Linked DNA regions of Homo sapiens. The protein of the gene in region 1 purifies or fractionates together with the protein of each later gene. This does not show direct contact. Each region holds a gene or a part of one and is shown on either strand. Other genes may lie near its edges.

Region 1 (3,500 bases):
AATACCAACACTTGGAAAAACATAGATGCATCACAGAGCGCCTACTAAGGATTTCCTGTGAACCAACCATTCTGACCTGTAAGAACTGGGAAACTAGGAAATGCCCTTTTCTCTGTGGTGATTGTGAAAAATATTACTTAATTTTATAACAAATCGGAGAGAACCAATTTCTCTGAACTTCCAGATTTGGGCCTGTTGCTAATTGTTCCCAGTGAATTCTAGCCTGGACCAAATGAATTCCCTGGCGTGGCACAGTCCAGATGGAAGAAGAGGGGAATGCATGGGATTCCTAAGTAGGGAGTGGCTGCCACCCTGAGGATTCTTCTAAGCCCTAGTGGGATGTGGTGCTGAGATCCTTTTTGAAGTGATTTCTGTGAGGCACGACTCTCCTGTGCTAGGTAGACCTGAGCCAGGGAAGGTAATCTAACCTTTCAACTCCTCTGGAAGCAGCAATCTTAGGAATAACTGGAAAAGGGGCCTTCCGGTCTGGCCAGCTGTTTTGTAAAACGGTACTGATGATTATTTAAATTGTCTTTTATGGTAACATCTGTAAACAGCCTGTCTTGTGCTCCAAATACGGTTTGATTTTGAGATTGCTGTGGAGCCCTGCCTGCCACTCCAGCGGGGTGGAGGTGGCCCTGTGAGTAGGAAGATGTAAGTAGGAAACATTTGGTGTGCTGGGAATTAGATAGCTGTTTTTCAGTTCACCATATGACATGGCATGGCTTAGATCACAAAAAGCTCCCTGCTCTGTGGCAGGACACAGGTAGACAGATAAGTACTGATCACCTGGGGTGATGAGAGAGAGTTGTGGTTTCATTCCAAGTTTTGAATATTAGGACCTCCTCAGCCACCCACCCAGACTCCCTCTGAGCTCTGGGCTCATCCCCCTGTTGCCCAGATGGTCCATGTTCAGGGAATGCAAAATAAGGCCTAAGAAAAATGTTTGGCAAAGTAAGTCTAGTGCCAAAAATGCATGGCATTTCAAAGCCAAATATAAACATCTTTGAATTACCTGTACTTTTAAATTATTTTCCGACCAGATAATTTCTGGATCAGATGGGAAAGTACCAGGTTTCCCTTCTTTTCTCTTCATGCAAGGTGCCTGGCTAGCCCAGTTTCCTTTCTGTTTCCAGCCTTCCATCTCCTGCCAGGAACCCTCCCACTTTGGAACAGGAAGCCCTGCCAACTCCTAGGCCCAGCAACAGCCTGCAGATATGTCCAGCAGGATAGGGAGATGATTTGCAAAGTGATTGAAAGATTCTGTCTTCCTGTTTACAGGGACATTTTTTCAAGTTAGGAGCTTGGAGCTTTCAGACTTAGATTTGTCTCTTGAAACCTTTGTAAATTAGACATCAGAAGTGTGGGATAAGCACCTTTGTGCTCTGGCTCCAGCACCTTTCCCCATCAATCAACAAGTCCTGTCAATTCTACGTAAGTACAAGATCCCTCTCAAATACACACTGCCCCCACCCCAGTCTAGGCCGCTGTGTCCTGAAATTACTAAAGTTTCCCAACTGATTCCTGCCCATTCTCTTCATGCAGCCAGAGTGGCCTTACTAAAATGCAAATCTGAACAAGTTTCTCCCTTGCTTCATTAACTACTCCCCTACCCACCCAGGTCTACTCACTGCTCTTAAAGGAACTGTTTCTCCTCCTCCACCCCACTTCTTTTGGTAAATTTTTACTCATCCTTCAAGTCTCAGCTTAAATGTTACTTCCTCAGGGAAGGCTTGCCTGATTCTCTGTACCTGCCCTTACTGGGTCGGGTGACATTCGCACGTGCCCGTGACACTCACTGCATTTATCTTATGCACTGTATTGAGGTTGCTGTTTAATTGCTAATCTTCTCACTAGACTCATAAGAAATACTTTTATATCAAGACATAGGCCAAACATTCATATAAAAATATATGCAAGGGAAAGAAAGTTTCATAAAACTCTTATTTTGTAAAATCATATTCGAATTCATGTAAAACTAAATCTGGTCACACCTTACTGCATTGACTTCCCAACCCTTAGATGGGTCAGGGCTTCTAGTGTGAAAAAAATACTCTAAATTCCATGAAGTGGGGGACAATTTCCCTCATTCACGGTAATTGGAATGGAATAGGAGCTTAACAGGTATTTGTTGCTGGAATTATTAACGATAATATCTAATTCATATAATCCTCGATCCTATGAAGAAACTACTATTATCCCCACTTACAGATGAGGAGGCTGAAGACAGTGAGGTTAAGTAACTTGCCAAGTGTCAAAAAGCTGGTAAGGTAGATGGCAGAGCCAGGATTTGAACCTGAGTAGTTTGCATTCAGAATTCTTGTCCTAGTCACTCAGCTTAGTATCCTTTGGTCAAGGTGCATGTGAATGAATTTACCAAGCAAAAATGTCAGAAAGGGTCTCCTTGCAGCTACTTCAAACTAGATCTCAGTCTGCCCTGCAGAGGCTCCTTGGGCAGTATTTATGTCTGTGCAGTGAAGAAGGCATCTGGCAAGAACAGCTGTTCCCCTTTGCTCACATGTACTCAACCTCCTAAACCACCAAGTCTAGCAATATTTAGCAAGTAGGGAGATTTAATTGTATAAAGGAAGAGTATAGATACTTCCAAAAATGCAATTTCACATTGTTATGAACTATGTGCTGTATATCCCCCCCACCCCCCTGCAAAACAAATCCTTTAAAAAGAAAGCCACCATGAGACTGGGGTATTTATTTTGTCATCAGTAGGAAACTGTCTAGATTAATACTTAAAGATAGGGGTAAGAAGATCATGTTCCTCAGGGGTCAGTGCTATTTATAGGATTTTAATCTGTAAAGGCAACATTTGAGAAAGGACATGATTGAAATATTTGAATCAAAGAGTATGAATAGACAGGAAAATATTTATTTGCAGAATTTCCAAACTAATTCTTATATTATTAGCCCCGATGCTGAACCTTAAGTCGTGGCATTTAGAGTAATAAAGAAATGGCTGGCAAAGGGTTTGTATTTCATCTTTATTACATGAATTACATGCAGGTCACATGCAATACACAGATGCTCTCCTATTTAATCACCTGAATATAACTACATGGAGATATTTAACAGCCCTGTGGGGTAAAGGGTCCTGGATACAGAACATCTGGGGTTTGTTTCTGGCCCTATCTCTAACCAACTTTATGACCACAGATTCCTCATGAAGGAGCCCAGACACTTGATCACAGTGTTTGGCAAATAGTAACAATTAATTAAATGAATAAATAATGAGTGAACTAAAAAGCTACTTCCAGCTTGAAGACTATGGATTTCATTCTAGAAACAATGAGAAATATAGTATAAAAATGTCTCCGAATCTTTTCATCACCTTCCTTGTTGGGTGATACAAAGTTGGTTCCTCCACTAATTAAAAATCCAGATCTATCTCTATTAGACAGGTTGGCCTTCTTGGATGCATGGTAGCTCTCTTTTATTTCTGTAGAGCCAATGGGTTAATCTTAACTTACTAGTCTATACGTGTAGAT
Region 2 (4,963 bases), on another chromosome or scaffold:
CACAGCAGCTCACGTCCCAAGAGAAGACAGCGCTCCTTCCCCAGCTCCTGAGGACACCTCGGCTTCTGGTCATAATGCTGCCTTGCTAGGTGGACGCACCCTTGTCTAAGAAGCAGACCCTGCTGACCTCCTCTTCTCACTCTGAGACCACCTGGTGGTCACCAGGCTGCAAATGGACTCGCCCTTTGGTCCTTGACGGACCCCCCCAACCATGGGACTCAGAGCCGAGAGCCTGGCAGGTGCTGCCACACACGGTTCAGACGTTCTGGGCCCTGGCCAGCCTGCCGAGTAGGGCACAGGCTCACGTCTCCAGCAGAGGACAAGCTTCAGATCCAGGCCCAGAGAAGGGGCCATTCTCCTCTTCTAGCAAACTGACCTGTCAAGGCCTGGAAGCAGAGCCCGGGCAACTGAGCAATGCATCCTAGGAAGTCAACGCTAAGGCATTTCCCCCCTGCCTCCTGCCTGCTGCCAAGCCCTAGTTACTCATATAACCAGCACGGTGGTCTGTGGCACGCAGGCCAGCCCTACTCACAGTGAGCGTGGACATGTACGTGTCAAGCAGCTCAGAGACCACGTGTGGAGAAAGCAATGGCTCCAGGGTGCCGACATCCACTTCCGGGGCCAGCTCCACGTTCCTCATCATCTCAGTACTATGGGGGAACCAGGAATGTGAGTGACAAACCACGACAGACACAGAAGAGCATGCCCAAGTGTGCCGAGACTGTTTCACTTGACACATGAATGTCCACCACCCTGGAGACTTCCTGGTCACAGCCGGCCCACAGCTCAGGGGAAAGTGCAGGGCAGGGGCCGAGGGCTTTGGGGTCTCTGTGGCATCACCCCACTGGCTCCCAGACTGCGTGAGTCCCTCCAACCGGGGAAAGTGCAGGGCAGGGGCCGAGGGCTTTGGGGTCTCTGTGGCATCACCCACTGGCTCCGAGACCACTTGAGTCCCTCCAACCCCAGCTTCACCCTGCTGCGCCAGCTTCATGAGGTGCTGGGGCTCAAATGTGGAAGAGCCTTTCCTGTGGGGAAGACGTGTGTTCTATTCACTGCACCTGCAGAGCCGAGGCAGGGCCTGGCAAACAGGAGGCGCTGAATAAACAAACGTACTCAGTCAAAACGACAAGCACAGCCGCCCCCACAGCCACGGGCGCCACGTCCACTGACTCAACCAAACACAAACTGAAAGTATTTGGGAAAAACAACAATAAAAAATAATAAAAATTTCAAAAAATATAGAACAACTATTTCCATAGCATTCACATTGTATTTAGTCTTATAAGTAATCTAGAAATGATTTAGAGCATGAAGGAGAATGTACGCAGGTTACGTGCAAACACTATACCCTTTTATAAAGGGGACTTGGGCTACGGAGGATTTTGATAGCCAAGGGGGGTCCTGGAATCCCTCCCCATTGAGTATGGAGGGGCAGCTGTGCTGTCCTTTGGAAACAAGCCACTGCAGTCCACATCAATATGCTCTGCAGACGGTGATGACTGGAACGTACAATACAGGACATTACTGATAAAAACGCATCCGCAAGAACAGGCAAAACTACGTGAGGTCTACTGTCCAGAAGACAGGAAACACATGCTACATTTCAGGAAAAGTTTTCATTAGAAAGTTATTATCAGCCGGGCATGGTGGCTCACGCCTGTAATCCCAGCACTTTGGGAAGCCGAGACGGGCGGATCATGAGGTCAGGAGATTGAGACCATCCTGGCTAACACAGTGAAACCCCATCTCTATTAAAAATACAAAAAAATTAGCGGGGCATGGTGGCACGCGCCTGTAGTCCCAGGTACTCGGGAGGCTGAGGCAGGAGAATGGCGTGAAGCCGGGATACACCTACTATGTACCCACAAAAATTAAAATTAAAAAGTTTTTTTAAGTCTAAGGTTTGACCACTCAGAAAATTCTTTCAACTCACACGCCTCATGCTATGTTCCGTAAATACGTTCTCAGAGTAACACTGAATAAAATGATTAAGAGCCAGTCCACTATAAGAAATCCGAGAGCTTCCTAAGTGAAAAAGTACTTCCTAAAATTCTGCACATTTTAAAAGACTTTTATTTAATCTGGATTATTTTTCCCAAGAACCTCAATTCCGTGTGAGAATGTTTCTAGTGGAGCACTTCAACCTCCCCTGAGAAAGGCCGGGGTGATGGAACTCACGAGACTCCCCAAGGACAGAAAAACACTCACAACGTGGAAAGACAAAATCAAGACACAAACTGTGCAAGGTGCACACATGCACAGCCCAGCCTAGTGGCCATGGCCCGGGAGGGCCCAGGGATGGGACTGGAATCCAGCTTCCCACTCACTGGCCGTGTCCCCTGCCTCCTGCCTCATGGGCTGCTGACACACACCAGGCACGGAGGGGGAGACCTGCACTGTCAAGGCTACAGAATGGGCGGCCATGAGGATGAGCGGCAGCCAGGGGAGGTGAGTCCAGGGCTGTGCACAGAGAGCCACAGTTGCACAGAGCGCCACGGTTGCACAGAGAGCCACCATTGCACAGAGCGTCACGGTGACCATTCTCTGCAGGGGGCGCTTCCTTTCTCTTCTGTCCTTCTGTATTGAAATGCAAATTCTCTATAAGCAGATACCAGTAAACAAAGCACACAAAAAAATATGCCTTACTGCTAAAAAAAAAAAAAAAAAAAATGAGGTTTATTCAATTTCTCCACTGCAGTGACAAGATGGGCGGAAGAAAAAAAAGAAGAAGAAGAAATTCCAATACATTACTTAATATTATTTTCTAACCATGAAACCATGGAAAATTGAAATAAATTTTCATTTCGGCTACCTAATCTTAAAGAATTTCAGAATACCCCCACCACTGCACCATTTTTCAACACTACTTCAAATTAATCCACGCACAGAGTGGTTCATGGTCCCTTAAGTGAAGTGACAAAACCTCGTACTAGGATACAAAAAGGATGATGGAGTTTCCTCGAACTATCTAGACTTGTAACTGTTTATTTTTGAAAGACTCACTGCTATAGGATATTGGTGAAGAGAAACCAAACCCGGGATGCTGGAAGCCAGGGAGGTGATGTAGTGGTCTCCTCCCCAGTGGGGTGGCCATGTGCCAGTCCCAGCCCCGCCTGGGACCATGTGTCCTCACCTGTAAAATGGGGTAACAACACACCTGCCTCAGGGTGTCACTGCAAGGAAGCAAGTCAGCACACGGTGAGCACAGGAAACAGGCCCAGCCCAGAGCTGCACCCTGTCAAGCTCAACGGGGGCTGGAGGCCAAGAGCAGAGATCCCTCCCAAGCACAACAGTGTTCAAACACCAGAGGCTGGGCACCAGCAGGCAGAGCAGAAAGAAGACACCCCTGGGCTGGAAACCAAGGCTGTGGGCTCGGAGCACCTGCCCAGAGCAACACCCTGAGGTCGGCTCTCCAGCAAGCAGCTGCAGGCCCCTCTCACACACGGCTTCTACCTAAGAGCCAACACAGGCGCCAGGTTAGCTTTACCTTGTGTAGGTGTTTAAGACCCACGTCAAGAGGCTCACGATCTCATTGGCTTCCAGGTCTTCCGATGCGAGGTCCTGCATCCGCGTGCTCAGGGCTTGGTGGTACATGTTCAGGAGGTTCTTAAAGATCTCATAGTGGGGAGGAAAGCACTGAACCATCAGGTTTTTGGCGACAATGAGGTCATCCAGGACGTACTTCCTTATAATTTCCAGGTGGCGGACAAGCCACATCTTGTCAGACTCTCTGGTATCTGCCTGTGTGCCCTCAATTCTGGTGGTCACAGTCCTCTCCAAGATGGTGAACATTTTCTCCTTCCAATTCTTGGGCCTCCCAGGAGGAACAAAGCCAGTTTGCTTTTTCCGGTCAAGTATGCGCCTGTCAATTTTCTCTTCCCTTTCAATGATCCTGACAACTGAGACCAGCAAGGTGGGGTCACGGCGGACAGTGACCAGTGACCTCTGCAGCACCATCCACAGCTGCTTAGCCAGCTCATCAGAGAGCCCCTGCGTGCTGCCAAAGTAGCCATGGATGAGGGTCATGTCACGCGTGTTCCCACTGTCCATGCGGTACTGCTCGTACATCAGCCCGTCCCGGGAGCACTCCAGGTCCATCAGCTTCCGGTGGGCTTGCAGGAGTGCCCCTTGTTCAATTAGGTCCTGGGTCTCCCTCACAATCTCAGGCACTAGGGAGAAGGCACAAGACACAACATAAACAACCACCACCACATAAAAGGCTGCCTGCATGCGGTGTTCTGGGAACACGGCAGAGCAGGAAGCCACATCTCCCTAGCTAACAACAACTGCAATGGCAGGATGTGTCTGAGGTAACTATCTTTGGAACTCTGGAGTCTATTAAAGGCATAAATGGTAAACTGTGGTTAACTGTGGTCATTTGCAGCTCTCAGCTGGGCAGTGGCTACCGAGGCCCCACCTCCCACCCCGCAGGCAGCTGTGCATGTGCTGATGTGTTCCTAAAGCTGCCTGCACACAGCCTGCAGCCTGGCTGGGCAAAAAGAACCCTGTCCTCCACACCGGAGATCTGTACTCAGATCACTGACTGCTGCTTCTGACCACAGAGGTGCGAAGAGGTAAGTGGCCACTGTTGCATCTTCCCCTGTTCACAGGTCCCTCCTCACCCCCACAGAGCTCCAGGGAATTTAAAGGGCCAATGTCTTCACCACCCCCTTCATCTGTTCCCCTTCTTGAAAGCCAGATATTTATGAATGAAGACATTCAAAAGTAACTGCATTTATAGGAAAAATTCGGAAGTGGCCAATGCATGCCCAGGCAAAGGCATAGGCTCAGAAAAGACTTGACACGACCTTGAAGTTCACACCTCAGGCTGTGCCTTGGCACAGAGAGCCTACAACAACCAAAAACAAGAATCATCAACCTGGGAAGGGGATCTGATTTCCAGAGTTATCACATTATTCGATTCAAGTGTCCATTTTTCAACAACAAAAACATCACAAGGCAC

What was found. The genes of interacting proteins can lie anywhere in the genome.
Region 2: the proteins of SCHIP1 (region 1) and EXOC3 purify together in Homo sapiens (affinity purification with mass spectrometry; one large-scale study listed by BioGRID and IntAct). This does not show direct contact.

The regions. Positions count from the first base shown.
Region 1 is NC_000003.12:159,759,244-159,762,743, reverse strand, and holds part of SCHIP1 (schwannomin-interacting protein 1), read right to left. Parts: intron 1-3,500.
Region 2 is NC_000005.10:452,576-457,538, reverse strand, and holds part of EXOC3 (exocyst complex component 3), read right to left. Parts: intron 4,170-4,963; coding exon 3,488-4,169; intron 651-3,487; coding exon 533-650; intron 1-532. UniProt on the Homo sapiens protein: Component of the exocyst complex involved in the docking of exocytic vesicles with fusion sites on the plasma membrane.